Linked DNA regions of Homo sapiens: region 2 is linked to region 1. Evidence: fine-mapped expression QTL. A gene starts in region 1. The other region holds a variant in brackets. All regions are shown on one strand. Distances are from middle to middle.

The links. PIP is the estimated chance that this variant, and not a neighbour inherited with it, causes the effect.
Region 2: its variant is fine-mapped to the expression of FAM178B in whole blood (TOPMed, PIP 0.99).

What each region holds. Positions count from the first base shown.
Region 1 is chr2:96,979,659-96,995,741 of GRCh38, forward strand. It overlaps FAM178B (family with sequence similarity 178 member B), which reads right to left and starts at 6,922. Exons shown (of 17, transcript NM_001122646.3): 1 at 6,583-6,922. The coding sequence starts at 6,655. LOC124906158 (small nucleolar RNA U13) reads right to left here and starts at 1,726; the gene lies at 1,624-1,726. RefSeq lists enhancers at 5,959-6,479, 6,480-7,000.
Region 2 is chr2:96,913,770-96,929,852 of GRCh38, forward strand. FAM178B (family with sequence similarity 178 member B) reads right to left here. Exons shown (of 17, transcript NM_001122646.3): 9 at 15,437-15,551; 10 at 9,721-9,814; 11 at 7,709-7,885; 12 at 7,396-7,493. LOC101927053 (a long non-coding RNA gene) reads left to right here and starts at 5,337. Exons shown (of 3, transcript NR_110209.1): 1 at 5,337-5,674; 2 at 6,006-6,133; 3 at 10,275-12,068. RefSeq lists enhancers at 1-154, 13,223-13,936. The variant C/A (reference allele first, on the strand shown) is at 10,448.

The DNA.
Region 1 (16,083 bases):
TGGTGGGTTGAATGGTAGTTCTGTTTTTAGTTCTTTGAGAAATCTCCATACTGTTTCACATAAAGGTTTGACTAATTTACATTCCCACCAACTGTGTATAAGTGTTCCCTTTTCTCTGCATCCTCACCAACATTTGCTATTTTTTGACTTTTGAGTAACAGCCATTCTGACTGACGTGAGTCGGGATTGCACTGAGTCACATTTCTGTTGAGAATGTACCTACATATCATATTGATGGGTCACAGGGAATAGGTATGTCCATTATAGTAGATAGGGCTAAACAGTTTTAAAGTTTTATCCTCCTACTAGCCACATGTCAGAATTCTCCTGTTCCATCCTTGTCAATACTTGAGATTGCTGGTATCTTAAATGTTTGCCATTCTAGTCAGCGTGTAATGGTGTTTCTTTGTGGGGTTTTTTTGTTTGTTTTTTTGAGACAGAGTCTCTCTCTGTCACCCAGGCTGGAGTGCAGTAGTGCGCAATCTTGGCTCACTGCAACCTCCGCCTCCCCGTTTTAAGCAATTCTCATGCCTCAGCTTCCCAAGTAGCTGGGATTACAGGCATGCACCACCACACCCAGCTAATTTTTGTATTTTGAGTAGAGACAGGGTTTCACCATGTTGCCCAGGCTGGTTTAGAACTCCTGAGCTCAAGTGATCCTCCCACCTCGGCCTCCCAAAGTGCTGGGATTACAGGTGTGAGCCACTGTGTCCGGTCTCCTTATGTAATTTAAAATTTAATTTTAAAAAGAATTTTGGAGATGAGGTCTTGCTCTGTCACCCAGGCTGGAGTGCAGTGGTGTGATCATAGCTCACTGCAGCCTAGAACTCTTGGCCTCAAGCAATCCTCCTGCCTTAACTTAGCCTCTTGTGTAGCTACAACTACAGATTCATGCCATAATGCCCAGGCAATTTTTTATTTTTTGTAGAGGTGGAGGTCTTTCTATGTTGCCCAGGTTGGTCTCAAACTTCTGGGCTCAAGTGATCCTCCCACCCTGGCCTCCGAAAGTGCTGGAACTACAGGCATGAGCAACCGAGCCAGCCTCCTTGCATTTTTTAATTTGGGTTTCCCTGGTTCTAATGAGGTTGAGCACCTTTTCATATGGAGTCCTGACCTAGATATCTTTTTTTTTCAATTTTTACATTTTAAATTTTTGTGGGTACCTATAGACATCTTCTTTTGTAAAGTGCCAATTCAAGTCTATTGCCCATTTTAGATCTGTGAAGTATTCTTTACACAGTCTTGAAATGAGTCTTTGATCAGTTATATGCGCTGCAAATATTTTATTCCACTGAATGGCTTCTCTTTCATTCTATTTATTTTTTTTCTTTGAGACGGAGTCTTACTCTGTCACCCAGGTGGGAGTGCAGTGGTGCGATCTCAGCTCACTGCAACCTCCCGGGTCCAAGTGATTCTCCTGCCTCAGCCTCCCAAGTAGCTGGGATTACAGGCACCCGCCACCATGCCCAGTTAATTTTTGTATTTTTAGTAGAGATGGGGTTTCACCATGTTGTCTGGGCTAGTCTCGAACTCCTGGCCTCAAGGGATCCACCCACCTCAGCCTCCCAAAGTGCTAGGATTACAGGTGTGAGCCACCGCGCCCAACTCACTCTTTTTTGGTAATCTCAAATGGGTAATACGTTGACTTCGTAACGAGGTCTCAGGGTGGCACATCTCACACATGCACGTGAACACTCAATCATCATGCTTATGAACCACAAAGGATCATTTCACTCTATTAATGGTATATTTCGATAAAGAAAAGTCCTTAACTTTAATGTAGCCCAATTTATCAACATTTTCTTCTGCAGTTGGTGCTTTCTGTATCCTGTTTAAGAAACTGTCCTCTTTGGGAGGCCAAGGCAGGCAGATCACGAGGTGAGGAGATCGAGGTCACCCTGGCCAACACGTGAAACCCCATCTCTACTAAAAATCAGCCAGGCGTGGTGGTGGATGCCTGTAGTCCCAGCTACTCGGGAGGCTGAGGCAGGAGAATGGCGTGAACCTGGGAGGCGGAGCTTGCAGTGAGCCGAGATGGCGCCACTGCACTATAGCCTGGGTGACAGAGTGAGACTCCGTCTCAAAAAAAAAAAAAAAAAAAAAAGAAAGAAAGAAACTGTCCTCTAGGCTGGGCACAGGGGCTCACACCTGTAATCCCAGCACTTTGGGAGGCTGAGAAAGGCAGATCGCTTGAGTCCAAGAGTTTGAGACCAGCCCAGGCAACACAGTGAAACCCTGTCTCTACAAAAAAACGCAAAAATTAGCTGGGCATGGTGGTGTGCACCTGCAGTACCAGCTACTTGGGAGGCTGAGTGGGAGGATCATCTGAGTCCAGGAGGTCAAGGTTGCAGTGAGCTGTGATCGCACTACTGCACTCCAGCCTGGGTGACAAAGTAAGACCCTGTCTCAAAAAAAAAGAAAAAATCTTCGTTTATTCCAAAGTCATGAACATATTTTCATATGCCAGCTTTGAGAATTTTTATTATTTTGTATTTCACACTTGGATCCATAACCCACACAAGAAACATTCTTCACTTTTTAATTGATGTATAACTTACAGTACATAAATATATATATTCATATAGTATATGTACATACTTTATATATATTATTATTTTATTTTAGAGACAGGGTCTGGCTGTGTCACCCAGGCTGGAGTATAACGGTGCAATCTTGGCTCTGCAACTTCTGCCTCCCAGCGTCAAGTCATCCTCCCACCTCAGCTTCCCGAGTAGCTGGGACGACAGGCGTGCACCACCATGCCTGGTTAATTTTTGTATTTTTTGTAGAGATGGAGTTTCACCATATTACCCAGGCTGGTCTCGAACTCCTGAGCTCAAGCAATCCACCCGCCTCAGTCTCCCACAGTGCTGGGATTACAGGCATGAGCCACCGCACCTGGCCTAATTTATTTATTTATTTTTGTTAGAGACAGAGTCTGTCTCTGTCATGTAGACTGGAGTGCAATGTCATGATCACAGCTCTCTGCAACCTTGAACTCCTGGGCCCAAGCAACCCTCCTGCCTCAACCTCCTGAGTAGCTAGGAGTGCAGGTTCACACCACCATGCCCAGCTAATTTTTTTTTTTTTTTTTTTTTTTTGTAGAGACAGGGTTCTTGCTATGTTGCCCAGGATGGTCTTGAACTCCTGGGCTCAAGCAATCCTCCTGCCTTGGCTTCCCAAAGTGCTGGGATTACAGGCGTGAGCCACTGCACCCAGTCTAATTTATTTTATTTTAGAGATATAGTCTCTCTCTGTCACATAGACTGGAGTGTACTGTCATCATCATAGCTTCCTGCCACCTTCAGCTCTTGAGCCGAAGCAATCCGCCTGCCTCAGCCTCCCGAGTAGCTAGGACTGCAGGCACACACCACCATGCCTGGCTAATTTTAAAATATTTTTGTAGAGACAGGGTTCTTGCTACCTTGACCAGGTCAGCCTTGAACTCCTGGGATCAAACAATCCTCCTGCCTCAGCCTCCCAAAGTGCTGGGATTCCATGAGCCACCATGCCTGGCTCTAAATGCACAAATCTTAAGTGTTCAGCATGATTGATTTTTATGTACATATGTGTACATTTAGTATAAATGTGTGTCTGTGTGTGCATATATATACACATATACATACATATGGTAACCATTACCAGATCAACATATTGAATATTTCTTACATTCTAGAAGTACCTCCTCCAGTCAATAACCCCAAAGGTTATACTACTCTGCCTCTATCACCACCGATTATTTTGCCTGTTCTTGAACTTCACATACATAAAATCATATATATATATTTTTGAGACATAGTCTCGCTCTGCTGCCCAGACTCGGATGGTGTGATAACAGCTCACTGCAGCCTCAACCTCCTGGGATCAAACAATCCTCCTGCTTCAGCCTTCTGAGTAGCTAGGACTACAGGTATGTGCCACCATGCCCAGCTAATTTTTATATTTTTCTGTAGAAACAGTTTCATTGTGTTGCCCAGGCTGGTCTCAAACTCCTAGGCTCAGGTGATCTGGTCACCTCAGCTAACAAAGCGCTGGGATTACAGGCGTGAGCCACTGCATCCAGCCAAATCATCAATTTTGTGCACTTCTGCATATATTTTATTCAACATTATGCATGTGAAAATCATCCACGAACTACTGCTAAATGTATGTTGTTGCATGCTATATGCCTGTAGCAGTAGTTCATGCAGCAGTTCAGTAATCTTTATTACTATACAATATTTCATCATATGAATAACTACTACTTATTTATCCATTCCGCTGTTGATGAGCATTTGAGTTATTTCTTGTTTCAAGGTATTATGAATAAATCTGCTATGAATTTTTTTTTCCAAGACAGTTTCGCTTATTGCCCAGGCTGGAGTGTAATGGCACAATCTCGGTTCACTGCAACCTCCGCCTCCCGGGTTCAAGCGATTCTCCTGCCTCAGCCTCCTGAGAAGCTGAGATTACAGGTAGGTGCCACCACACCCAGCTAATTTTTAGTAGTGATGGGGTTTCACCATGTTGGCCAGGCTGGTCTCGATCTCCTGACCTTGTGATCTGCCGCTTCAGCCTCCCAAAGTGCTGGGATTACGGGTGTGAGCCACTGTGCCCTGCCAAAGTGGTACATAAAAACTTTCACTCCGCCACCAGGAAGACAATTTGCCCAACCTGTTCAATACAGTTCCCGCTCAACAAACCCCAATTTAGCATCTTCTATGTGTCAGGCAGTATGCTGAGCATTGGGACCTCAAGGATGAGGAAGATGCAGTCTCTGCCCTAGAGGAGCTTACAGCAGCAGGAAGTTTCTGTCATAGGACAGACCCAGGGCTCACCAAGACTCAAGCAGATGATGAAGCCTGGGGCTCACTGGCCCAATCAGCGTATTCAGACTGGCTGGCTGCTTATGAGGCTCTTGGGCCAGGGCTGCCTGCTCAGTGGGCAGCTGACTCTAGCTGCTGCAAAATGCCTTTCACTCAAAGGTGCTATCTACCAGTGATTATATGGCATTCCAATTTTACCTGGAAGGGAGATGCAGCTACCAGCTGTTTCTTCCCTCTCCCAACCACAAAGTAACACATTTTTCATTTGTCTATCTGTTGTTTCCAGGTTTTTGCTTTTGCCAATCCCCTCCCTCACATGCCTTGAAACAAGCACTTTCAAAGACAAAGACATAAACAACAAAAGGGTGCAGGCTGAGGTGGGTCATCTTCTCTGCCTGCGTCTCCAACTCTGGATCCTGCAGTTACTGGACTCAGGCCATGGCTGACTCCTTCATCACAGCTAAGATGCTGCTGGGTTTAAGGCACTGTGACTTTCTGTGCCACTAAGACCGACAAAAAGCTGCCAAGTGAACGATGACACAAAGAAAGACACAAACTGTGGGACCCAGCCCAACTTCAGAGCTGCTAAAATGTGAACAAAAATGCATCCCGGAATGGATGGAAACCGATCATTCTAGTTGGTGTGACCTGCTCCAGTGCCTACAGTACGTGTCCTGACAGCGTGGGAGGGGATATGAAGGCCCCCCAGTCAAACAGGAGACAGCGTTAGTCTCCAAACTTAACTTTGTTATCTCTTTCCCTCCTGGGGCCCAATACCCGCCAGCCAGGACCTGTTTCTCCTCCATCTCACATTCTTTCCAGGTTCAGGACTGAAGTCGTCTTGTTCAGCTCCTTGACTTGGCCATGCTCACTCTACAATGCAGCCCATGGATGGCGCCCCCTCTGCCCAGCACATCCCTCTGCCTGGGCTCTTGTCTCCCCGAATCCTGCAAACCCCAGCCCCAGCCTTTAGCGTTCAGCCGCCCTCCCCGCTTCCCTCATCCTCCCTCGCGTCCTCGCAGTGAGATTTCAACATGTCATCTCAGTTTTTTTGTTCTTTTACTTTCCTGACTACAAGAAAAATAAAATAATCTGTCTTAAAGTGTAGCATGAGGCCAAATAATTACGGAATCCCAAGTGCTTTGGGCCCTGATGTCAAAAGAGCCAAGATGAATTCAGAATATTACAATGGTGCTGTTTCTGCGAATACTGCTTTTTCAAGACGCCTTATTCCTAACATCATGTTTTATATCCATCCTTTTAAACAAATATTTAATAGCTTGGGAATGCTGGCGAGAGCAGCGGCTCCTGTCAGCAAGGACTGAGCTCACAATTTGAAAGATGAAAGGAGATGCGTTCTACCCACAAAGAAAACGGTCTCCAGCATCATAAACTCCACATCCATCAAACCGGGCAGGGGCTGGGAATAGAAAGCCTTTCTGGAAAGAAAACACCAGCTACCCTTTGCACCCTGGGGAACATTAAAAATCAAAACAAAACATGCCACATCAACCAAAACATAAACCAGTTCTCAAACCAATCTAAGGTTCCACCCCACCAAGGCCGGCCGCGCAGTGGCCTGTGGAGAGGAGGGCCCGGCTCACGTCGGAACCCGAACCACGCGGGGTCGCAGGAACCTGAAAAGCGCCAGAGTAGCCCGGCGGCCGCACCGGGGCTGACCTGCAAGGCCTGGACCAGCCAGGAGTCCCAGGGAAGTCGAGTGCTCTCTGAGCGCTAACCACGCGCCCCTGCGGTTCCTCGGCCTCAGTTTCCTTACCTGTAAAATGGAGCCGCTGATCCTGCCTCCTGAGTTGTGGAGCGAGGCCCGCACCTGGAAGCCTTGGCCACATAGGGCGGGAAGGGCAGGGCTCCGGGGTGAGGGAGGGTGGCGGGAATTCGCACGGCCTCAGAGGACGGGGCCAGCTAGCCGGGAAAGGAAGCAGGAGCAGGCTCCCCAGGCGGCGCAGTGGGAGGACCCCAAGAGTTGCGTCCCTAGATCCAGGGCCGCCAACGTGGAACCTAAAGATCCAGTTCTGGGGATTGAGTTCCGACTCCAAACCAAGCGGCCAGCTCACAGCCGCCGCCGCCGCCAGCTGGGGAGCTCGCCGGCCAAGTGCGCACCCTCTTCCTGTTAGCCCTCCACGTGCGCGCCCTCTTCCTGCTCGCCCTCCACGTGCGCATCCACGTGCGCGGGAATTGGCTGGCGGAAGCTCCTGCCCCCAGGCAGTCCTGGGTCACGCGCACTTGTAGTAGCTTGCATTTACCAAGACAGTGAGACAGTGGCCTGGCGCGGTGTCTCATGCCTATAATCCCAGCACTTTGGGAGGCTGAGACGGGACGATTGCTTGAGCCCAGGAGTGAGAGACCTGCCTGGGCGACATGGCGAAACCCCGTCTCTACTAAAAATACAAAAATTAGCCTGGCGTGGGCAGGGCGCGGTGGCTCACGCCTGTAATCCCAGCACTTTGGGAGGCCGAGGCGGGCGAATTGCCTGAGGTCAGGAGTTCCAGACCAGTCTGGCCAACATGGTGAAGCCCTGTCTCTACTAAAAATTAAAAAACATTAACCGGGCTTGGTGGCTGGCGTGCGCCTGTAATCCCAGTTGCGCGGGAGGCTGAGGCAGGGGAATTGCTTGAACCAGGGAGGTGGAGGTTGCAATGAGCCGAGATCGCGCCACCGCACTCCAGCCTGGGCAGCAGAGCAAGACGCCGTCTCAAAAAAAAAAAAAAAAAAAAAAAAAAAAAAAAAAAAAAAAAAAAAAAAAAGCCGGGCATAGTGGTGCAGTGCCTGTAGCCCCAACTACTTCAGAGGCTGAGGTGAGAGGATCACTTGAGCCTGGGAGGCGTAGGCAGAGGTTGCAGTGAGCCGAGATCGTGGCACTGTACTCCAGCCTGGCGAAAGAGCAAGCCCCCATCTCTAACACACACACACACACACACACACGTGTGAGATAGCTGTGTCTGTTTGGCAGTGATGAGCTTCCCTTTATGGGAGATTTACATAATTATTCATAAAGGAGCGGGAATGGGCATTACTGTTAAGCATGTTACGGGGTCTCCCAGATGTGCATGTGCGTGCTAGTACACCACATCACATGTCTCATTAGCATTTTAATTCCTCACCCAGGGGTGTGTTTTTTAGCATTAAAATGAGCATAGGTCATTCCAAGGACACTCTAATCATGGGTTTCTGCACTTGTGTGAATTTGGGGATTTTCCCTTCTGCTGTTCATCCTCTTCGCTGCAGGATGTTCTAACTAGGAGCCTGATGCAGTTTATGCACCAGTGGGCGGTTTGTTCTCTACATCAATCTGGCAAGTTCATTCCCCTTTAAAGGAGGCTATGACCACTGTATCTAACCGACCTCATTTTCCCCCTCAGAGACTTTGGGTCCATGTTCTTATGAAATGTGGAGGGCTGGGTCATTTTTTCTGGAGCTGCTTCGTGCTGAGACAGGACCAGGGCCCGAAAGTCTCTTCTTGCCTGATTTAAAGTGATAGGGGTCATATCCTCCACTGGGATAAGTTGAAATCCTTGCATAACTATCAATCTAGGAATTGTTGTAACCTAGAAGACACAGACTTTAAAGGAGCTTAAACAAGCAAGGACCAAAGGTCAGTAGTAATAAGATGGCTATTGTAGGTCCCATGAAAGGTAGCAGAATGAAGCATCACATCATTATTCAGCAAGCAGAAGAACAAAAAGAGCTCCTACAAATAGGAGACCTGAGATGGGACTACCTTATGTTAAAGTAATATTAATCTCTTTATTTGGGGTGTTGGCATCTTTTCTTGAAAATGAATGTTAGGTCTTCTATAGGCTTACAAAAGGATTTTTAATTTTTAGTTGTTGATGTAGAGTCCTGTGGAAACGTAAGGGAAACAGTTTTTATCCTAGAGAGATGCACCCAGCTGGCAATGTCCTGGATTCTCTGGACTATGGTGTGTTATGGTGGTCAGCTGGGCTTTTGAGAGTGCTCCTATGAGAAGGGGTTCAGTTGGTTTCATTGGTTTTAAAGAAGCCCCCAACGAGGGTAGCAACAAGGGAGTTAGGCATTCACGTCCTTGAGTCTGCAAATTAAAGGTTGGGTGGCTGGGCACGGTGGCTCACGCCTGTAATCCCAGCACTTTGGGAGGCCGAGGCAGGCGGATCACGAGGTCAGGAGATCAAGACCATCCTGGCCAACATGATGAAACCCCGTCTCTACTAAAAATACAAAAAATTAGCCGGGCGTGGTGGTGGGCGCCTGTAGTCCCAGCTACTCAGGAGGCTGAGGCAGGAGAATGGCATGAACCCAGGAGGCGGAGCTTGCAGTGAGCCGAGATGGTGCCACTGCACTCCAGCCTGGGCAACAGAGTGAGATTCCATCTCAAAAAAAAAAAAAAAAAAAGGTAAAAAGGTTGGGTAAAGTATCTGGTCCGGGTTTTTCATCAATTCCCGTGGCAGTGCAGTGTTTGGCCTATTTGGCCTACTAGGGTCGACGGCAGAATGTAAGGACTGACAGGCTGGTCCCTGTATGTAATAGAAAATTAGCTACACCTGCCACGTGCAGGGTCACTGGATTCCTCTGTGGTAATGGGGACTGAATGACAGCCAGTGTTAGCCTTGGGTCTCCTCAGTCTTTAGTCAGGGCCATCAAGGAATTGGAAGCCCCTGTCTCCCTACGGAGTTGGGGGCAGTCCTGCTTCCGGTGACTGGCATCTCTGCATTGTGGATATGGTCTAGGTGGAGCGGACTTTTGGGCATTTTGTCCCTTGGTCTGGCAGTTTTGGGGCCAGTGTCCTGGTTTTAAGTGTAGCAGGTGTCCCCAGATTGGGGCTTGGTCTGGACTGGCTTGTTCTCTCTGATAGCAAGGGCCAATAATCGGAGGCCTGGTTTATGTCTCTTGCCTCTTCCCTCTTTCACTTTTTAGCCTCTTCTACTCTGTCTCATTATAGAAGACTTCAAAGGCTACATTAATTAGCTCATTCATTGGTGCCTGGGGACTTACAGCCAGTTTTTGTAACTTTCTCTTAATATCTGGAGCAGATTGACTAATAAAATGAGTCCCCAGAAGAATTTGACCTGCCTCAGAGACAGCATCTACATTGGTATATTTTTCTAATGCCTTTACAAGGCACCCCTGTGAAGACTCAAAAGGACCATATAATATTTCAAAGGTGCTGGGTTGCAGATTGGTCTTGGGAGCCGCTCTTACTTGGAGGAACGCTAGAGGCAATCACTTTAATAAGGACTCAGAAGTCTCTTGCCAGAGCTTCGCCAGAGTTTTCTTTACAAGTAGCTTTTTCTAGCTTTCCTGAGGATGGAGGTCTCCAGGAAGCATGTAAATGATCACTTACTCCTAGAGTGGTAGCACTTGCTGGGTTATTTTGGAAACAAAGGAGGGGCCATTGTCGCTTTGGAGTGACATAGGTAGCCCAAATCGGGGAATGATTTCTTTTAAGAGGCACTTGTGCCTTTTCTGTTTTGGTGGAGTAGGCTTCAATCTATCCCATGAAAGTATCTGTAGAGATCAGTAAGTGCTTAAATCTTTATACTGGTGGAACTTAGGGAAAGTCTAACTGTCTGTCTTCCCCTGGGTACCTTCCTCTCCTCTGTACTGGCATCAGTAATGGAAGTGGCCTTATTTTCCTTTCTGGGTTATTGATAGAGTAAAGTGGTCTCGCTGTAGTGTGTGCTTTTACAGTAGTAGCTAAGCCTGTTCCCTTAAGGGTTCATGTGACCAAAGCGTTAGAGAGCCCCTTCCTAGGTGTCTGTAACCCCCTTTGATTAATTTGCATTGATGACCTTGAGGTATTAAAATTTTTGAATTTTGGGGCCGGGCACGGTGGCTCACGCCTGTAATCCCAGCACTTTGGGAGGCTGAGGTGGGCAGATCACGAGGTCACGAGATCGAGACCATCCTGGCTAACACGGTGAAACCCTGTCTCTACTAAAAATACAAAAAAATTAGCCAGGCGTGGTGGCGGGCGCCTGTAGTCCCAGCTACTTGGGAGTCTGAGGCAGGAGAATGGCGTGAACCCGGGAGGCGGAGCTTAAAGTGAGCCGAGATCGTGCCACTGCATTCCAGCTTGGGCGACAGAGCAAGACTCCATCTCAAAAAAAAAAATTTGAATTTTGGGTCCACCATCATTAGGGTCTTGGTATTATCCCTGTTCAGTTGCCCACTCCCTTTCAGTTTGTGTGTGTGCAGGCACTAGCTCAGGAGCCATAGTTTCTGGGATGGGAGCCCCTGCTACAAATGGAAGGGACACAGCCTGTTGAGCAGTTGCATTTGCTAAATTATCATTTTTTTTTTTTATTGTTGTAGAGTTCCCTCTTTGGTGTCCCCTGCAGTGCATAACATCAACTGGTAACTGCTTAGTCTTTGGGCTAAGTCTGACATTGAGAAAAGAATGTGAACTCGAATGGTCCCTGCCTCTTTGTTAGTTAATTCCCTACGAGGGAGTAGCCTGTTTTCTGGTTTGAGTGGGTGTCCTAGCGCGACTGGGCCCTTCTGGGAGTGCTGGGTGAATGGGTTGATATGGAGGAGGTGCAGTAGAAGACTGCAAGTCTGGTGAGGAAGGACCACTAGAAGGAGTAGAGGCTCTAGAGGTTTGAGGAATGATCCTTGGACTAGATTTGAAGAAGGAGAGCTGTTAGTGGGAGGCATACTTCCTAATACAGTGTCATGAATTACATCAGATTCCCTTGAACCCTTCTGAACAACATGGGCATAACACATTTGTCACTGGTCTCTAAGACACTTGTGGGTTTTAATTTTTTTTTTTAATAGAGATAAGGCCTCACTATGTTGCCCAGGCTGGTCTCCTGAGCTCAAGACAGCCTCCCACCTTGGCCTCCCAAAGTCCCAAAGTGATTACAGGCATGAGCCACTGCGTCTGGCAGAGACTTGTCTTAATGTAAAACCGTTTGGTTAGAGGGAGGAATAATGTCAGGTTGCCCTGGGCCCTTGGGGAATTTCTGACCTTCCTTTCCTTTTATAAAAAGGTTTAATTATAAAATGGTATTGTTGGGCCAGGCACGGTGGCTCACACCGGTAATCCCAGCACTTTGGGAGGCCGAGGTGGGCGGATCACGAGGTCAGGAGATCGAGATCATCCTGGCTAACACAGTGAAACCCCGTCTCTACTAAAAATACAAAAAATGAGCCGGGTGTGGTGGTGGGCACCTGTAGTCCCGCTACTTGGGAGGCTGAGGCAGGAGAATGGCGTGAACACGGGAAGTGGAGCTTGCAGTGAGCGGAGATCGCGCCACTGCACTCTAGCCTGGGCGACAGAGCGAGACTCCGTCTCAAATAAATAAATAAATAAATAAAATGGTATTGTTTGGGGCCATGCTGTATTACAAAAGAAGAGAAGTCTCTTTTTTTTCTAGTCCATTCAGTTTAAAATAAGACCAATTTTGGAGAATGCATCTGAGGGGGCAGTGAGCAGAGGGTTGGTTACTGTATTGTTCCGCTCTCATACCGCTATAAAAACTACCTGAGACTGGGTAATTTATAAAGAAAAGAGGTTTAATTGACTCACAGTTCTACAGGCTGTACAGGAGGCATGGCTGGGGAGGCCTCAAGAACTTACAGTCATGGCAGAAGGTGAAGGGGAAGCAAGTACATTTTCACATGGTGATAGGAGAGAGAGAAAGAGAGTGAAGGGGGAAGTGCCACACACTTTTAAACCATCAGATCTCGTGAAAACTCACTATCATAAGAATAGCAAGGAGGAAATAGCCCCCATGATCCAATCACCTCCCACCAGGTCCCTCCCTGAACATTGGGAATTGCAATTCAACATGAGATTTGGGTGGGGACACAGACCCAAACCATATCAGTTACCCATCTTGATTAGTAGCCTAATGTCAAAAAAAAAAAAAAATGAAGAAGGCTCTAAGCCTGAAGAGACAAAATTTAGCTTGGGCGTCCCCTTACTTTCGCTTGGGCTTCCCAGGCCCTGCTGTCCCTGGTGTCAAGCGTACCTTGATGGCCAGCTGACAGTCTTCCCAAAAGTGGTTTTACCAGTTTTCCCACAAGGAGAGGTACCACTTCTAGTCCCTGTCTTTACAGTTATTGGTGAGTGACCAATGTGGAATGAGGCAGATAAACTTCTTTTCCTCATTTAGCTGAGGGAGTCTTTTCCTGGGCTTAGACTCTTCTGGCCTTTTCTGTACATCTGATGTTCTCTTATTAAAGGCCCAGGACTTGGGTGGGCAGCCCTAGAGCTGACATTTCTATGGTACCATGATCTCTCTACATCCCATTTTCCTCTCTTAAAGAGCAACTGTATGAAGGGAAAATGAAGCAGGGGAAAAAAGAGCAACTTAAGGATCTGGAAAACAGCCAAGCCTACTAGGGTTGGGGGAGCATCAATTGATTGAAAGGCCCGTTTTCGGCGAGGTGCGTGGCTCATCCCTGTAATCCCAACACTTTGGGAGGCCAAGTTGGGCAGATCACCTGAGGTCAGGAGTTTGAAACCAGCCTGACCAACATGGAGAAATCCCGTCTCTACTAAAAATACAAAATTAGCCAGTCATGGTGGCGCATGCCTGTGATCCCAGCTACTTGGGAGGCTGAGGTAGGAGAATCGCTTGAACCAAGGAGGCGGAGGTTGCAGTGAATCGAGATTGCACCATTGCACTCCAGCCTGGGCAACAAGAGTGAAATTCTGTCTCAAAAAAAAAAAAAAAAAAGAAAGAAAGAAAGAAAAGAAAGGCCCATTTTCTATTTGCCTGATCTTTGCTTTAAAACATTGACAAAGTTGTCTGATTAGGGATACAAAAAGGCTGAGATCCCCAGTTTTGAGATCTTTTACTTGGTCACGATAAGAATGTTCATACAATCTAATGTGTTCCTGACAGACAAGACATTTGACAGGATTCACCCAAGAAACCAATTGGGAGATTAAGGAATAAAATTCATCGCCCCACCCGTAAGGGATTAAAGAACAAAAGTAATAGTTATCATCAGCAGCAGAAGACGGATTGAAAGGTCACCTGGCATTATGCAGCCTGGGCTTTTTCCCCATCACTTTCATATGTGCCAGCTGTCTGGCTGGACTAAGACAGCCACAAGCTACTTGGGGAGAGTCTAACTTTCCCATCTCCATGAGTCACCCACAGGTGAACTGGAAACCAGTTGGATGGAGCATGACAGTCTTAGCTGAAGGGAATTCTCAGGTGGCCAAAAGGAGGATATAAAGAGAGGAGGAAGATTAGACCTGTAGCCATGAGGTGGTGAGATCATTCTTACCTCTTGACTCAGTTTACCCAGGTCCTGCTGCAGTTGCCAACTTACAGTGTCATTGGGCCGATTCAGGTTCTTGACTGCTGCACAAAAGAATTTGAGAGCAAGTACAAAGCAAAAGTAGGTAAAGAAGTTTATTGCAAAGCGAAGGTATACTGGGACGGCTGGGCCAGAGCGGGCTGCTTAGAAGTGAGACAGAGTTGTCTGGCAGTGAGGTGCTTCCCTATATGGGAAATTTACATGATTATTCATAAAAGAGTGCGAATGGGCATTGCTGTTAAGCATGTTGTGGGGTACCCTCGGTGTGCATGTGCTATTGCTGTACATGCTAGTACACACGTCTCATTAGCATTTTAATTCTCCACCCGGGGTGTGTTTTTTATTTATTTTTTTGAGACAGAGTCTCGCTCTGTCACCAGGCCGGAGTGCAGTGGCACGATCTCAGCTCACTGCAATCTCTGCCTCCTGGATTCAATCAATTCTCCTGCCTCAGCCTCCCGAGTAGCTGGGACTACAGGCGCCTGCCACCACGCCTGGCTAATTTTTGTATTTTTAGTAGAGACGGGATTTCACCATGTTGGCTAGGATGGTCTCAATCTCTTGACCTCGTGATCCGTCCACCTTGGCCTCCCAAAGTGCTGGGATTACAGGTGTGAGCCACCGCGTCTGGCCTGTGTGTTTTTTAGCATTAAAATGAGCGTAGGTCAGCCCAAGGACACTAATCATGGGTTTCTGTGCTTGCTTGAATTTGGGGATTTCCCTTCTGCTCTCCATCCTCTTTGCTGCAGGATATTCTAACCAGGAGCCTGATGAAGTTTACGCAGTTGCCAATCGGTCAAGTTCGTTCCCCTTTAAGGGAGGCCACGACCACCCTATCTAACCGACCTCAGTCCGACAGTCAGATCTTTCCATGGTGGAGACACTGCAGATGTGTGTATTGAGAACCACTCTGTGTATTGGGAACAACTCTGCTCAGAACCACCAGCCATGAAAATCATTTTCCACGTTTTGCTTTGAGAAGAGATCTGTCCTGGGCATGTTTCTCTCTCTCTCTCTCTCTCTCTCTCTCTCTCTCTGTCTCTTTCTCTCTGTGTGTGTGTGTGTGTGTTTGTGTGTATGTGTGTGCACATGCATATTCCCATTAGGAGATTTCAGCCCTCAGATTCACACTCAACAAATACTGGTTGAGCCCCGGCCCTGCACCTGGCATTGAGTTAGGCTGCTTATACAAATTATTTTGTCTTATTCTAAACCAAGCCTGCTATCACCAAAAACTCACACCCTAGACTTCTGGGGAACTGATTTTTAATTAGGCATCACAAATAACTAATTAATGATCCTCCTGTGTGGTTCTACAGGAAAGAGGGCAGTAGAGCTGAACTGAGCTTTGCCGGAGTGTGGCTGGGATGGCTGTCCCCTGAGGAGCCCCTCTTCTGAGGCCAGGATATGATGGGTGGGAAGGCAGCCACCTTGGGGGTTGGCAGTCTCTTCCCAGCAAGGGGAAGGCCCCTGGAAGGAGCAGAAAATAATTACTACTTTGCCTTTGCTTCTTTTGATAAATTCCTGCGGGAGTTTGGGCCCATTCATTCATCTGACTTCCAGTTGTCTGTCAAAAGGACTACTGACACCAGGACATGGTGGCATACGCCTGTAATCCCAGCACTTTGGAAGGCTGAGGCAGGAGGAGGGCTTAAGTCCAGGAGACCAGCCTGGGCAACATAGTGAGACCCCATCTCTACAAAAAATTAAAAAACTAACCAGGTGTGGTGGCATGTGCCTCTGGTCCCAGCTACTCGGGAGGCTGAGGTGGGAAGATCACTTGAGCCCAGAAGGGCGAGGCTGCAGTGAGCTGTGATTTCACCACTGCACACCAGCCTGGGCAACAGAGCTAGACCCTGTCTCAAAAAAACAAAACAAAACAAAAGGCTGTTGAAGATGTAGAAAGAATCCCCTCCAAACTCCTTACTGTTCTTTGCAGAACTACTGCGATTTAAAATGTTTTAAATCTATATAGGTAGGTCCATTTTAATATGTACCATTT
Region 2 (16,083 bases), 66 kb before region 1:
TGTGGAGCAGCAGGGTCCCTGGCCAGAAAAGCCTGTGAGGACTGCCGTCCCTGAGTCCTTTCCTCAGGAGCATCCAAGTGGTTAGGCCTGGGTCTCGCTCCCAGAGGTGGAACAAAGGAGTGCCTGACTCCCGGCTTCTGTGCAGAGGAGGGTGCGAGGAAGACGCCTCCTCAACACAGGAAGGAAGCCCACACCCCCCGCAAACCTCAATGTATTTCCATCACAGGAAGAGATCAGAAGAGAGCCAAACATTGTTGGCTTTTACTTATTTGCCAAATATTTACTCAGCACCCGTGATATTCTAGTCCACGCTCTGTTCTGGGTGCTGAGGATGCAGACATGGGGGAGATGGACGGGGCCCTCCCGCCCAGGGAGCTCATACTCATGGGGAGGGCTGGTCATAGTTCACTTCTGGTCCTGGTAGTCCGTGGAGAAAAATGAAGGAAAGGGAGGTTGTGCAGAGCCCTGAGGTGGCAGCTCATTTGGAAAAAAGGATCAGGTGAAACCTCTCTGAGGCAGTGACATGTGAGCAGAGACCACCATGATGAGAAGGGGGGAGTCTCCTACCAACGTGCGGGCATGAGGGAGGGTGGGCATCAAGACACAAGTGCCCAGTGCACCGCAGGGACAGGGAGAAGAAGAGCAGAGGGCAGGGCCACACCGCAAAGGGGCCTTAGCGGCCACCTTAAAGACTCCAGGCTTCCTTCCAAGATGATGCAAAGTCTTGGAAGATTCTGGAGCAGGGAAGTGACTCAATTGCTTATGACAGTTCTTTTATGGTTCAGTGTTTTAGGTGTCATCATAATGTTGTAATTATGTTTTAAAATACCCACCAAGGGCTGGGCACTGTGGCTCATGCCTGTGATCTCAGCACTTTGGGAAGCCAAGGTGGGAGGATCACTTGAGCCCAGGGGTCTAAGACCAGGCTGGGGAACACAGGGAGATCCTGTCTCTACAAAAACTTAAAGAAGTTAGCTAGGTGGGATGGTGCATGCCTGTAGTCCCAGCTACTCGGGAGGCTGAGGCAGGAGGATCACTTAAGCCCAGGAGGTCGAAGCTGCAGTGAGCCTGGATGGCACCACTGCACTCCTGCCTCGGCGAAAGAGATTCTGTCAACAACAAACAAACCACCAAGACCTTATCTTTTTAGAGACACGTACTGAATAAAATAAGTCTAATCATTTGCTCTGATTCACAATGATGTGGGGCAGGGGTGGGGGGCAATGGGTGAGGGAAGGAGGAGTCTCCACGGCTGTGTTTGCTGAGATGGAAAATGGGTACATGGAGTCCATTTTACTAGCCTCTCAACGTTTGTATATGTCTTGAAATTATCTATAACCAAATTTTTTTTTTTTTTTGAGACGAAGTCTCACTCTGCCTCCTAGGTTGGAGTGCAATGGCACAATCTCGGCTCACTGCAACCTCTGCCTCCCGGGTTCAAATGATTCTCCTGTCTCAGCCTCCTGAATAGCTGGGATTACAGGTGCATGCCACCATGCCCAGCTAATTTTTTTTTTTTTCTATTTTTAGTAGAGACGGGGTTTCACCATGTTGGCCAGGCTGGTCTTGAACTCCTGACCTCAAGTTATCCACCCACCTCGGCCTCCCAAAGTGCTGGGATTACAGGTGTGAGCCACCGCACCCAGCCAACAAAACTTTAAAAACTTATTAAATAGAAGTGATTCTGGCTAATTGGTGAGAACTGGCTGTGGGGGTAAGAGCAGGAGCTTGGAGGCCGACAGGGTCTTTAGAAAGGGGAAATAAGAGGATGGGCACGGTGGCTCACGCCTATAATCCCAGCACTTTGGGAGGGCGAGGCGGGCAGATCACAAGGTCAGGAGTTCAAGACCAGCCTGCCCAACATGGAGAAACCTCGTCTCTACTAAAAATACAAAAATTAGCTGGGTGTGGTGGCACGCACCTGTAGTCCCAGCCACTTGGGAGGCTGAGGCAGGAGAATCGCTTAAACACGGGAGGCGGAGGTTGCAGTGAGCTGAGACTGTGCCATTGCACTCCAGCCTGGGCGACAGAGTGGGAAAAAAAAAAAAAGAAAAAGAAAAAAAGAAAGGGGGAAATAAGCCCTAGGCAACCAAAAACACTCCTATTAACCTCACACCCAAAGATGGCCTTTCTTTTCCCCTAAACAGAATTGGCATCACACTTTACATATGGCTTCAAAGCCTTTTTTCCACTCAGCGTATTTCATTAACTTTCCCATTTTCCTGTGACATCATTTTTAGGTACCATATAATACTCCGTAGCACGGGCAGAACTGAATCGATGGTGGGGCACTGAGGCAATTTCCAGTTCTTCACTATCATGACATTGCTATGCCAAACATCCTTGTCAATGAATCTTTGCCATCTAGTTCCCCAGAAAACGATCTAGCTTTTTGAAGGGTGTGCACATTTTAAAGTCATTTGCTTGATTTTGCCAAACTGGCCTCCAGAGGGACTACTGACCGCATCTCATGAGCAGGGAAGCATATGCCTGTTTCCTCACATCCTGCCAACACTGGGCAGCACTGTCCTTTCGGATTGATTCTGGTCTGCCAGGCAAGGAACTCTACGTCATTGTCAGGGCTGGTTTCGTGAGCCGTTTTACGCAGGCTTTGTCCATTCCTCCATCTGACCAGGCAGCCTGCGGGAGCTGGCTTCATCTGACCTTCTGCTTTGAAGCAGCGCACACAGGATGTTTAATGAATAGCCGCAGGCAGTGAAGGAAGAGGATCCCCAGAGCCTGGGACATCAGCTTTCAGTAGAGTGCAAGCAGTTGCAGGAGCCCTGAACAGAAGTGGGGATGGCATGCTGCTCTTCCCAAAGCTGCCTGAGCTGCCCCAATGGCGCCACCTCCCAAGGTGGATGTTCCTCCAAGAACCTCCTCTTCCCCTTGGCTCTGTTTCAGGTGGTCTGCCTTAGTATTCACTTTCATTTTTCATGGTTAGGCCCAGCTCTTCCTTACATTTGCAGTGCATCCCATGAAGTCTTGAACGCTGAGGCAGGGGCTGCGGGTGTACTGCATGAGTGTCAGCAGGAGTTCTCGCTTTGTGCTTAACCAGTCAGTCGAGCAGACAAAGAGTGTGACAGCCCTTCGTACACCAATCTGCCCTTCTTCCTGGGGTCAGTCTGGGCACAGAGCCCAGTGGGGCAGCCACCAGTGAAGGCAGCCAGTAAGCTCTGTGGCCGCCGCGGGAAGCACAGTGGAGCAGCAGCTCACTGAAGACCCACAGTGAGTACAACGCGGCAGGAAAAAAGAATTAGGAGCCCTTTACAACCCAATCAGGGATGACGGCCAGAACACACCCTGAAGAGCAAAGAAGGTGCGGAAACGGCGGGTACGTGCACACGCAGACAGAGGCTGGCGGCCAGCCAGGTGGCTCTGGCTCAGGGGAAGAAGCGCATTTTCAACATCAAATTTGAAAGGAGTACTTTCAAAAAGGTACTCCTTGGTACCTTACGAATTTTGTTTTATTTGAATGCTTTTATCTATTTAGAAAAATAAAATCAATAACACTGATCCCGATAAGGCACCCTCCTTCCTAGTAAAGCTCTTGGCACAAAGCATCACCCTGCTGACGTGGCTGCCTGAAAGGCAGGCGCAAGATGCTCTGTTTCATTCATTTCCTGGCATTTAAAGGGCAATTGCCATGGGCCCTGGAGCTACCCACAGATTCCACAAAAGACACTGATTCATGAAATCACAGTTTAACATGGCTAGCAGATGAAGGAGTGAAGTCATAAACTTAGGATATGGAGAAGGTAGCTTCAAATCTGTCTTGAAAGGATGAATTATTAAGACCAAAAAGCTGAGGCATGGTGGCTCACACCCGTGATCCCAGCAGTTTGGGAGGCTGAAGTGGGAAGATCACTTCAGCCCAGGGATTTGAGATCGGCCTGCACAACATAGGGAGACCTTGTCTCTACTAAAAATTTAAAAATTAGATGGGTGTGTTGGCATCTGTCTGTAGTCCTAGCTACTAAGGAGGTTGAGGCAGGAGGATTACTTGATCCCAAGAGGTCGAGGCTGCAGTGAGCCATGATGGTACCACTGCACTCCAGCCTGGGTGACAGAGTGAGACCCTCTCTCAAAAAACAAAACAAAAGGCAGAAAAATTGACGTTGGGTCCCCACTGGCTGTTTGGGGATGGAAAAAATCAAGTTAGATCCTTCTCTCATACCAAGGACAAACAGATTTGAGTTGGGATTAAGAGCTGATGGACACAAAGTAAAGCCAGTCCTGAAAGAGAAGAAAGCACACTATCTTTATGGTCTTGGTGGGGAAACCCTTCGTCTTCCACATGGAAAGATTACATTACACAAAAATCCCAATCAATTCTCTGCATTATCCATAAAACTGTCCTGTAAATCTAAATCTATTCTAAAATAAAAAAAAAAAGGACTGAAAAAGTAAAAAAAAAAAGAAAAAAAATTCCAGTTCACTGAAAGGTACCATACATAAAGATTTAAAAAGGACAATCTATATAACCTTTGGAGAAAACATACTGTAACATAATAAGCAACATGAAGATCAACAGAGTTGATAAGAAGATAAATTAACTGATAGGAAAGTGGGTAAGAAATACCAAAAGGTAATTTACAGTAAGAGAAACACAAAAGGCCAATAAATACATGAAAAGATACTCAGTTTCACTGGCAATCAGGGAAATGAAAATTAGAACCACAGGATGATGTTTTCCACTCACCAGATTGACTAAAACTCAAAAACAAAACTGGGAATATGTAGTATTAATGAGAATGCAGAAAAATATGCACTTTCATACCTATTTGGTGGTGTTACTAATAGGTCCAGCTTTACATACTTTAGGGTTGCAATTTCACATCAAGGAATTTATCTCATAGAAATATCTGCACAGACACTAAACAGTCACTGGAAGAATGTCCAGTATTAGTAAGGGAGGACACCACCCCTCATGTTATCTTATGCCCAATTTCTGCCTCAAAGAAAAAGTAGGAGTTAAAGAAAAGAAAGAAATGAAATCAGTAGTCAGACAGCCCAGTGCTGCGTTCCAGGCCTGGTAGTTACAGACTGACCCCTGACTTAACCGGTTTATGTTATCTATAGATTCCAGACATTACACGGGACAGCACTGTGAAAAACCCTGTCCTGTTCTGTTCCATTCTGATTACCAGTGCATGCAGCCCCCAGTCACGTACCCACGGCTTGCTCAATCGATCACGACCCTCTCACGCGGGCTCTCTTAGAGTTGTAAGCCCTTAAAAGCGACAGGAATTGCTGACTCAAGCAGCTCGGTTTTTGGAGACGTGAGCCCGTCAATGCTCCCAGCTGAATAAAGCCCTTTCCTTCCACAACTTGGTGTCTGAGGGGTTCTGGACTGTGGTCGCCCTGCTACATTAGGAGACTACAGTGGCACACACACTAGGGAAATACTATGCAGCTGTGAAAAGAGTGAGGTTTATTGTGTGTATGTGTGAGAAAAACAACCACAAACACCATGCCCTGGATGGAGCAAATGAGAAACTGGCTGGACGAGGTGGATGAGGGGGCCTAGGGACCAGCCTAAGAATTTGCACCTGGCCCTGCAGGCAATGGGGAGCATGGTAAGGCAGAGACGTGATCATCACAGGAACCCCCAGGCATCTACAGAGCAGGCAGACTTTGGAGAAGAGGAAGAAATGCCTCTGCCACCCTCCAGGTGAGCCGGTGAGATGAAAGGAGGTGACTGATTTACGTGAGCCAGACATGGTCCTGGCTGTCACGGAGTTGGATTTAGGATACAGAAGGCAGAAAGGACAGGATTTAGGGACGAAAGGGGTAACAGGTGGGGATGGCAGAAACCTCTAGGACTGTAATTTCCAGCTGGCAAAGCAGAGTGGATGGGCGGTCTGGGGAGAACAGGGAATCAGGAGGCAGGGTCGGCCTCTCCATCCCATGAAGAAATACCAGGCTGCTGGGCTGCAGGCAGCCTCCCTCACTGAGGCCCCTGGAGTCCTCTGACAGAGCTTCCAGAAGTCCCATTCTTTCAGAGAGAGGATGAAACCTGCCCTCTCCCAACTGTGCACAGGCTGCCTCTCTGCCAGCCAGATTCCCAGGAAAGACAGAAAGAGATGGGACTGCCTGCTCAGCACTGAAGCGGAGCCCAGGACAACTGAAGGTAACTTAGTCAACAAGCAGAGCCTCTACCAGGCTGGGCCCTGGGGTGTGAGGCGATTCAAACTCCAAGCCGGCTCCCAGAGACCACCCTTGGAACAGTGCAGGGGAAGGGAAGGGGTCCCAGTGGAGGGTAACACAGAGGTGTCTGCCAAAGTTGAGGGGTAGGAAAGGAGTCATTCTAGGCAGGAGGAGCTGCAAAGGGACAGGCCCAGAAAGAGAAGGGAAGAGGGAGAGAGAAGAGCAAGGCGAGTGGATGGGAGTGGTCTGCTCCGGAAAGGGCAGGCAATCCTGTAAGACCGTAGCCAAAAGTGGGAGAAGGAAAGTGGAGAGAGAAGCCGGGCCAGATTCAGCCAATGGGCCTTATCTCCTCCTGGGCTGAGTTTGTTTACCCACTTCATTCATTCGAAAAGAATTTACAGGCCAGGCGTGGTGGCTCATGCCTGTAATCTCAGCACTTTGGGAGACCGAGGCAGGCACATCACGAGGTCAGGAGATTGAGACCATCCTGGCTAACACGGTGAAACCCTGTCTCCACTAAAAATATAAAAATTAGCTAAGTGTGGTGGCGGGCGCCTGTAGTCCCAGCTACTCGGGAGGCTGAGGCAGGAGTATGGCGTGAACCCAGAAGGTGGAGCTTGCAGCGAGCCGAGATCGCACCACTGCACTCCAGCCTGGGTGACAGAGCAAGACTCTGTCTCAAGAAGAAGAAAAAAAAAATTTACAGAGCGCCGAACAGCACGCTAGGCACTGTTCTAGATCTGGGACAATATGGCAGTGACCCTGACAAGGTAGCTGTTCTGGTAGAGGTAACTTCGAGGAAAGCCACAGCCATAAACAAGGAAACAAAGAGTAACATAATTTCTGGCATGGGTAAATGCTAGGCAGAAAAGAAAACAGAAGGATGAATCGAGAGTGTGCGAGTGGGAGTCGGGTGATCAGGGGACAGAATTCAGCTGAGGTCTGAATGACGAGGAGGAGCTGAAGACTGGGGAGGGAGCCCCAAAGAAAGGAGAGTGGGGGCCCTGCAGGCAGGAGCTAATTGCACAAGGCAATTGTTTTGCTAATAAGACCATGTTAAGAAAATTAAGCTTTTTTTCATTTGTAAAGAACTCATTAGTGAGTTATATTTTTAGTTCTCCCTCCTGGGGATTAGAAATTGGGCAGGGGAGGTTTGTTGGGGCTGATGGGGAGGACTCTGGATCCCTACAAGACCCCGAAGAGATGCGTGTGAGAGGGAGGAGGCAGCGGGGGAGCAGCACGCACCTGCTCCGGGAGGTCATGTCTGGGAAGAACTGCACGAGGGCCAGCAGGTTGTGGTGGTGGTCAGACACCCAGCTCAGGGTGCAGCACAGTTCCTGGAGCTGCAGGAGAACGGCACCCCATGGGCTACAGGAGGACACCGCCTTCCCCTTGCTCTCGCCACCCAGCCCGCACAGGGGAGTAAGTGGGCAGTCACGGAGATCAGGGACATTCCGATGACCTCCAGGCAGTGCCATCCCCACCCAGGGCACTCTAGGGGCCACCTTGGTCCCTAGTGATGAAGCTGTATGAGGACCAGGCTCTGGGCGTCTAGTACCTTCCCTGGCCACTCCCGGATGTTCTCCAGGAGCAAGAGGAGAAGCTGCTGGAGGTCAACTTTGGGCAGCAGGCGGAGCCCCACGTCCAGGCTGGTGCGGCACAGCAGCTCAATCAGTCCCATGAGGTTCTCATCAGTGTAGGCCCCCGGCTGGGCCTGGGCACACAGCGCCAGAAACTGGAGAGAGAAAAGAGGGCAGGGGTGGCCAGGGCATGGGGGAACGGGAGAGTACTTCGAGGACCAGTTCCCTGGGAGACACTTAGGCAGAAGGGATGGTACTGTGAGCCCCGCGGCCATGTTGGGTAGGAGCTCAGGAAACAGTGAGGCCCCTGCAGGGTCCTGGGTGGCAGGCACAGGTGTGGAGAGTGTGCTTGTCAGAGGCGTTTGAACCAGAGCAACTCCATCTTGAATAGGGGCTGGGTAAAACAAGGCTGAGACCTACTGGGCTGCATTCCCAGGAGGTTAGGTATTCTTACAGGATGAGATAGGAGGTTGGCACGATACAGCTCACAAAGACCCCGCTGATAAAACAGGTTGCAGTAAAGAGGCTGGCCAGATACCACCAAAACCAAGATGATGACCAGAGTGATCTCTGGTCGGCCTCACTGCTTATTATATGCTAATAACAGTGAATTAGCATGCTAAAAGACACTCCCACCAGTACCATAACAGTTTACACATGCCGTGGCAATGTCAGGAAGTTACCCTATATGGTCTAAAAAGGGTAAGAACCCTCAGTTCTGGGAATTGCCCACCCCTTTCCCAGAAAACTCATAATCCACCTCTTACTTAGCACATAATCAAGAAATAACCATAAAAATACTACACCAGCAGCCCTTGGGGCTGCTCTGCCTATGAAGTAGCCATTCTTTATTCTTTTACTTTTTTTTGAGACAGAGTCTTGCTCTGTCACCCAGGCTGGAGTGCAGTGGCGCCATCTTGGCTCACTGCGACCTCCGCCTCCCGGGTTCCAGCAATTCTCCTGCCTCAGCTTCCCAAGTAGCTGGGATTACAGGCACGCGCCACCGCGCCCGACTAATTATTGTATGTTTAGTAGAGACGGGGTTTCACCATGTTGGCCAGGCTGATCTTGAACTCCTAACTGCAGGTGATTCACCCACGTTGGCCTCCCAAAGTGCTAAGATTACAGGCATGAGCCACCATACCTGGCCTATTCGTTTACTTTCTTAATAAACTTGCTTTCATTTTACTCTATGGATTTGCTTCCAATTCTTTTTATTTTTGAGATGGAGTTTCTCTCTTGTTGCCCAGGCTGGAGTGCAATGGTGCAATCTCAGCTCACTGCAACCTCCACTTCCCAGTTTCAAGCAATTCTCCTGCCTCAGCCTCCACGCCTGGCTAATTTTTGTAGTTTGTGTAGAGACGGGGTTTTGCCATGTTAGCCAGGCTGGTCTCGAACTCCTGACCTCAGGTGATCCACCCGCCTCAGCCTCCCAAAGTGCTGGCATTACAGGCATGAGCCACTGCATCCAGCCTTTTTGTTTTTTTGAGATGGAGTCTCGCTCTGTCGCCCAGGCTGGAGTGCAGTGGTGCCATCTCGGCTCACTACAACCTCTGCCTCTCAGGGTCAGGCAATTCTCCTGTCTCAGCCTCCTGAGCAGATGGGACTACAGGTGTCCGCCACCATGCCCGGCTGATTTTTTTTTGTATTTTTAGTACAGATGGGGTTTCACCATGTTGGTCAGGCTGGTCTGGAACTCCTGACCTCAAATGATCCACCTGCCTCAGCCTCCCAAAGCGCTGGGATTACAGGCATGAGCCACCATGCCTGGCCCCAATTCTTTCTTGTACAAGAACTCTCTCTTGGGGCCTAGATCAGGACCCGTGTCCGATAACACAGTTTCTGTAGCATCCGGCCCACAGCCAGCACAGTGCCTGCCATGGTGCTGAGCTCGCCGGAGATTCTCCGTGATGCTCCTGGAATTTAGCTGCTGAATGGGTCTGAACTGTAAGCCGAGAGTGCCCTGCATGAGGCAGGCGGCTTGACTCACCTTGTAGATGTGGCCCAGGCTGATGTCCAAGGCAATCTCTTGGGGAGCGTCCTGCTCCTCATTCTCATTCAGGCCAGCCTCGCCTGGAAGCACCCTGTGGTAAGACAACAACAGTGACGATGGGAAACCCAGGAGGGGGCACAGGGGCAGGAGTGAGGCGCAAAGTGGGACACTGCTGCCCTGAGGCTGCTCATCCGCTGGACACAGCAAATTCTTCCACACAGATGATCTCATGAGTTTCTGAGGGCCAAGAATCCAGGGCAGCTCTGTTGGGTGGTCCTGGCTCGGGGGTCTCTCGGATGTTGCCCTCAAGATGTTGGGTGGGGCTGCGGTCACCTGAGCCTACAGGCTGGAGGGCCTGCCTCCCGGCTCACTCACCTGGTCACTGATCCACAGGCCCCAGGGCCTCTCCACAGAGTTTCTCCACATGGCCGCTGGTTCTCCAAAGCCAGTGGTGAAAGAGAGAGGGAGAGAGAATATGCCCAAGACAGAGCCACAACCTTCCACAACCTAACCTCGAAAGTGACATCCCATCTCTTCTACTGGTCACACAGGGCCGACCTGACTTGGTGTAGGAGGAGGCTACAGAACTATGTGAACTCTAAGAATGGGGGACACATGGAGGGGGGCTCCTTGGGGACTGGCTCCCACATGCTACCGTTCAGGTGAGGCCTCGAGCTTTAGTTTTCCAGGACTTGGAAACCAGAAAATCACACTTCCAATCCCC[C/A]CAAAGTCCGTGAGTTCTCCCTGGGTCCGTTCGACAAGGGTGAGCCTGCATACACTGCAAAGTGCACCACGTGGTAGCTGACACGGGCTGGCTCACAAGCCAGCAAGTATGGGGGAAATCAGAACAAAACATCCCTGAAAACCCCCTCCAAAGGTGTCACCCTGAGCTGATGTGCTGTCTGCTGATAAGACCTGCATGGCCAGTTTCCCCGAGTGACGGACCCAATCTGGCTGAGCACCAGATGATGTTAGAGACCAGGGCTGGGGAAAGAAAAATCCCCCCCTTTAAAGATCAAGCCACACGCAGGGTGGTGAGATGCTTACGGTGAGGGGGACCTCGGTGGGGCTTTGTGGATGGCAGTCTCATCACCCTTTCCACAAGCCTCCCTCCCAGGCACGCGCTCACAGGACGAGAGCCTGGGCGGGATCACCTTCATCGTATGGCCGAATGTACATTGTTGATTTCAAGTATGTTAAGTGAGCTTATGATGAGGGTCCCCTCTGCTGTCTCACCCACTTCTCCACTCTTAAGAAACGGCTTAAGGTTCCTGCTAACAGTGGTAAGTGAAGATATTGATGACAACCACACTGCTGATGACAGCAGGCTCCAGGCAGCCCCCTGGCACAGGGGAGGAAGAGCACTGTCCTACAGCTCCTGTGAAGTCTCTGCTCTTCTCTGCTTGGCACTGGCGCTGGGCTCAGAGGGGAAGGAGGAGAGATCTGTCTCCGAGGTACCAGGAAGTTGGTGCCGACAAACCAAACTTGGTGGGGGAGTGGAAACTGTGGCTGGGCTCAGTCCTTCTTCCAGATTTCAGCATTTATTAGGGCCCTAACTGAATGGGTAAGGCTGGCATTTGCACATCTGGGCGCAGGCTGGGCCTGCGCCAGTACGTGAGGGGAAGCTCTGGTTCGTACCAGCCTTGAGCGTGCAACACGCGCAGCCATAGGTGGGTGTGCTTTCAGGTTTCTCAGCACGGGGCACTCAGAGTCGACTACAAACATCTGCAGAAGAGAGACGCTGCCAAGGGGAGAAGGAACATTGAAGGTGTGAGGTGGTTACATGTGTTTTTTGAGCTGCAGAGAGGAGTGTGGCTGTGGGGAGAGCCCTGTCCTCCTTGGAAAGAAATGTCAGCCTTCCCAAGTGAATGCCTGGCTGGTCAGAGTTCCAGAACTTTGTGAGCCCATGGACTAATGGGCAACATAATGGGGGTCCTCTAATCCTCGCTTTTCAGAGGAATCACTTGACTAAACTGCTGGCATCTGTGGCTGCTGTTCTGAGCTGCAGCATCAGCTGATCCCCGAAACTCCACCACTGCTGCCAGCAAGGGGCCACAGCCCGGGAATTCAACGGCCTATCTATTATCCCTGCTCCCCTCCTGGGCTTAGCAGGTTAGAGTGAGCTGATGGTCCCACCATTGGACTCTTATGAGCAAAGCAGCTTCACTGGTCCCACGCCTGGCTCCAGGGTCTGTGGCCAGCACCTAGGAACTGGGTTTCTGTCTCGGAGACACCGTTCAATACTCATTAACCTTACAAGGGGCATGTCACTGGCCTCTACCCAGGTCTCCGCATCTTCTTCCCCCAAAAGTTGAAAAAATAATAAAGTTACCATCTGCATGGCATTCTGACATTCTCAGAGGGAAGATGGCAGGTACAGTGTATGAGCACCACTACCACCTTAACCAAGAGCTGCCTCTTTAATCAATTGCCCCCTCACTTGATAGGACGCCCTGTCAATGTGTTAATTGTCATGTATTTACCCCTTTGGTCTCTGCACCAGGCTGCTCCTTTGAAAACCAAGTGGCTGGCGGGGCATGGTGGCTCATGCCTGTAATTCCAGCACTTTGGGAGGCTGAGGTGAGTGGATCACCTGAGGTCAGAAGTTCAAGACCAGCCTGGCCAACATGGTGAAACCCCATCTCTACTAAAAATACAAAAATTAGCAAGCATTGTAGTACGCACCTGTAATCCCAGGTACTCAGGAGGCTGAGGCAGGAGAATCGCTTTAACCCGGAGGCGGAGGTTGCAGTGAGCCGAGATGGCATCACTGCACTCCAGCCTGGGCAACAAGAGTGAAACTCTGTCTCAAAAAAAAAAGAAAAGAAAACCAAGTGGCCAAGGCTTCTGGCACCAGGAAACAGCTCCAGACTTTTGGTCTTCAGCGGCCAGGCCTGCGCATCAGAGCAGGGCTCTAACTTCAGCTGGGCTTGGTAGCAGGAACAGCCTTGGAGGACCATGCACAGCTACCTAAAGACCTCCTTTGTGCTCCTGGGGGAGATGGGGGCACCTGGCAAGTCCCATTCTGTGTTGCAGCGTGGGCATGAGCCCCTCTGAGGATGCTGATGAGCTCCCCCACCACCCGCTTCCCATTCATATCCACGCTCCATCCTTTCCTTGAAATGTCCTCCTGTTTCCCCTCCCCAGTCTCATCATTGAGCAGAGGGCCACTGTTTCCAACAAGTTGGATGCCAGGAGATCTGCATGGCCCAGCTGCGGAAGGACTGCATCTTTCTGAAAGGAAATCTGGAAGCGCTAGATGGGAGATGGTGATGGCTTTTAAGGAAATCCGAGATTAGGAAGAAATGTGGGAAGACTTGTCTTTCTCAGAGCAACTAAAGAGACAGCCCAGTTACGGTGGGGACATGCACAGATGTCTGAGGCCCTCATTTTGAGCCCTGGCCATTGTGAGGCACTGTGGGTAGCCCAGGAGAAGCCCCAGAGGTATCCGTTCCCCTGGATGGAGGCATCCCTGGAAGTCAGCAGAAAAAAGATGCCTGGGCGGAGCCAGCTCGCACAAGACAGCCTCTGAGTTGGTGAGGAGCCAGGACGAGAAGGAACACAGGGAGAAGATAGCCTGCCGTGGGGTTTCTCTTGTGGCCCATGCATCCATGAAGGATGCCATACCCTTGGGGAGGAGATGCTGGAACCTCCTTGATGCTTCCCGAATACTCCGGAGGGGTCACCCTCCAATCCATGACACAACGCAGCAGCCCAGGAAACCTACCCAGGCATTTTCGCCATCCTCCTACCCCGAGGAAGACATGGGGAGGGGCTCCAGGCAGGAAAGCCTCCCCAGCCCTGAGGGGCTTGACCGGTGGTCCCCAGCCTGCTCCCAGAGCCAGGAGCAGGGAAATCAGCCCTGCGGCTGTCAGCCAGGTCCTCGAGGGTAGTTCTGAATCCTCTGATGGGAAATGGTGTCAACGCCAGGCCAAGGTCTGGGGCCCAAAAGAGGTAGATGTTAAAACGGTGTGTCTGGGACACGACATGAGGCCCTGGCAGCTCCCTGGGCCCGATCTAGGACAACACAGCCCTGCTTTCCTCCCACACAAGGCTTAACTGCGCCTGGGAAAGCTGAAGTCTGCGTGCCGGGGTTTGTGTCCCAAAGTACTTGAGATGATGTGTTTAAAGGGCCACAGTTCTCATCTCTCCTGCCCACTCTGCCTCTGGAGACAACGGATTTGTCACGCAGCATGAAGGGCAAGCCGCAGTCAAATCCTGGGAGAACCGGGAGGCAGTGGGGGAAGCAGCTCTTTGCAGAGCAGAGCGAGACCCAGTGGCTATGTCTCCAGTGCCGCCTCCCACTCCCAGGAGGACACAGGGACACTCATCACAGCAGTCACAAGTGGCTCTTCTGGACTCCACGGCCCCTGCCTGCCTCAGACGTTCATTTGTCTTTCTGAGTGTAATTCTCTCCCCCGCTCATCCAAGACGGTGTGCGATTGCAGCTCTGTGCCAGGAGGAGGCAAGTGGCTCATTACACCAGACATGGAGCTGCGAGCTCCGGGAGGGAAAGGGGCAGGAGCACGGCAGGCTGGCACATGTGTGGGGTATTTATAGCAGAGCTGAGTGTGGTTTGGCTTGGCAGACAATTGCTAAACACAGTCGTGGAACAGGTTCTTAGGAGAGCTCCCACTTTCCATGCAGAGGAACATCTGCCCGCCGAGGCGAGGGAAGGGGGGCCTGGCACCTCCTGGCGCTGACGGATTGTCAGCGGGAAGCATGGGGGGAAGTCCTATACAACAGCCCCTCCAGGCTTCAAAACACTCTGTTCCATCTCAAATCACCTTCTTCAAGGGTTCTCAAGAGAGTTTGGATGTGCTAAAATTTGTAGAACAAGATGACGATATATAACACTTTTACGACCTTAAGCTAAGTCGCCATCCGCCCACCAGAGCTATTTATGCATCACGTGGCACTCCTCCCCACAGGCAGGGACCAGGCATAGGCAAATGATCATGACTGTCCACGAGCAAGTCAGCCCGGGGCTCAACGGGGGCACTCATGACACAAAACTGAGGGTTGTGGGAACATAAAAGCATGCCCTGCTGTTCCTGAGTGGATATTAGGTAACGGGCCAAACAAGCGGCTTGAAGAGACTCAAGGGACTGGGACGTGTCTGCAAGGATACTAACCAGGCTGTGAAGTCTGGGTTTCACCAGAGAGTGGGGGCAGCGGGGGCTGAGTCAGGAAGTGCCAAAAACAGGCTCATCCATCCTGGGGGCTTCCCATCTCCCTGAGGCTGGGAGCAAGGAAATTCCTTCCTGGTGTGATACTCAGATCCTCAGGCGGGGGTGTGTGGTTGTTCTGTAATTCCCTACACATGGGATACAGCCTGAGTCCAGCAACTTCCAAACAAACAAGAGAACAGGTGGCTGGGCATGGGGTGGCTCATACCTGTAATCTCAGCACTTTGGGAGGCCAAAGCAGAAGGATCGCTTGAGCCTAAGAGTTCAAGACTAGCCTGGACAACGTAGGGAGACCCCCCCCCGCCACCTCTACAAAAAATTAAAAAATTCGCCAGGCGTGGTGGTGCGTACCTGTAGTCCCAGCTACTCAGGAGGCTGAGGTGGGAGGATCACTTGAGCCTGGGAGGTGGAGGCCGCAGTGAGCTATGATTATACCCCTGTATTCCAGTTCTGAGTGACAGAGAGAGACCCTGTCTCTTAAAAAATATGAAAGAAAAAGGCAGTGAGGAAGCAGAAGTACTCACCTGCCACCGTGCCAAAAGGGCCCCAGAGGGTACAGGGCAGGACTGTGGGCACCCAGGCTGTGGAATGCCTCCCTGACTTCTTGCAGTGAGGGGCACCACAGGTGCTTGTCTTCATCTGTCAGGCCAAAAGGGAGCAGAGAGTTAGAATGGGGAACGGAGGGCAGGGTGCACCACTCCCACTGAAGGGGCTGGCCGTGACCCCTGGCCCAAGATAACCAGTTTTTGCCTTCTCTGACACCACAGGTGTTATCTGGGGAAATGAAGCAACTGGTGGTTTCCAAGTACTTCTGGGGCTTTGTGAATTTCAATGTTTTCTTGAATATTCTCTTACCTGGTCTTCAAGGTATGGCTGCACTTGGGTCAACCACTCCCTGACCATCTGGCCATCCACATCAGGCAGTAGTCAGGGTGCTCGGCTGCCCACAGCCAAGTGACACGAAGAGTCCTGTGCCAGAGGCCCCGAGCTACAAGGCTCACTGGACACCAGGCTCACGTCCTTAGACTCTCTTGCTGCAAAGCACCGAGGCTGACACTCAGCCCACTGCAGCCTCTGCAGCACTCTTGCTGCTGCAACATTTGGGCATCCCTAGTCCACCATCCCTGCTGGGAGCACACCTCGCCTGCCTCCCACAGCCTGGGGCGTGTCT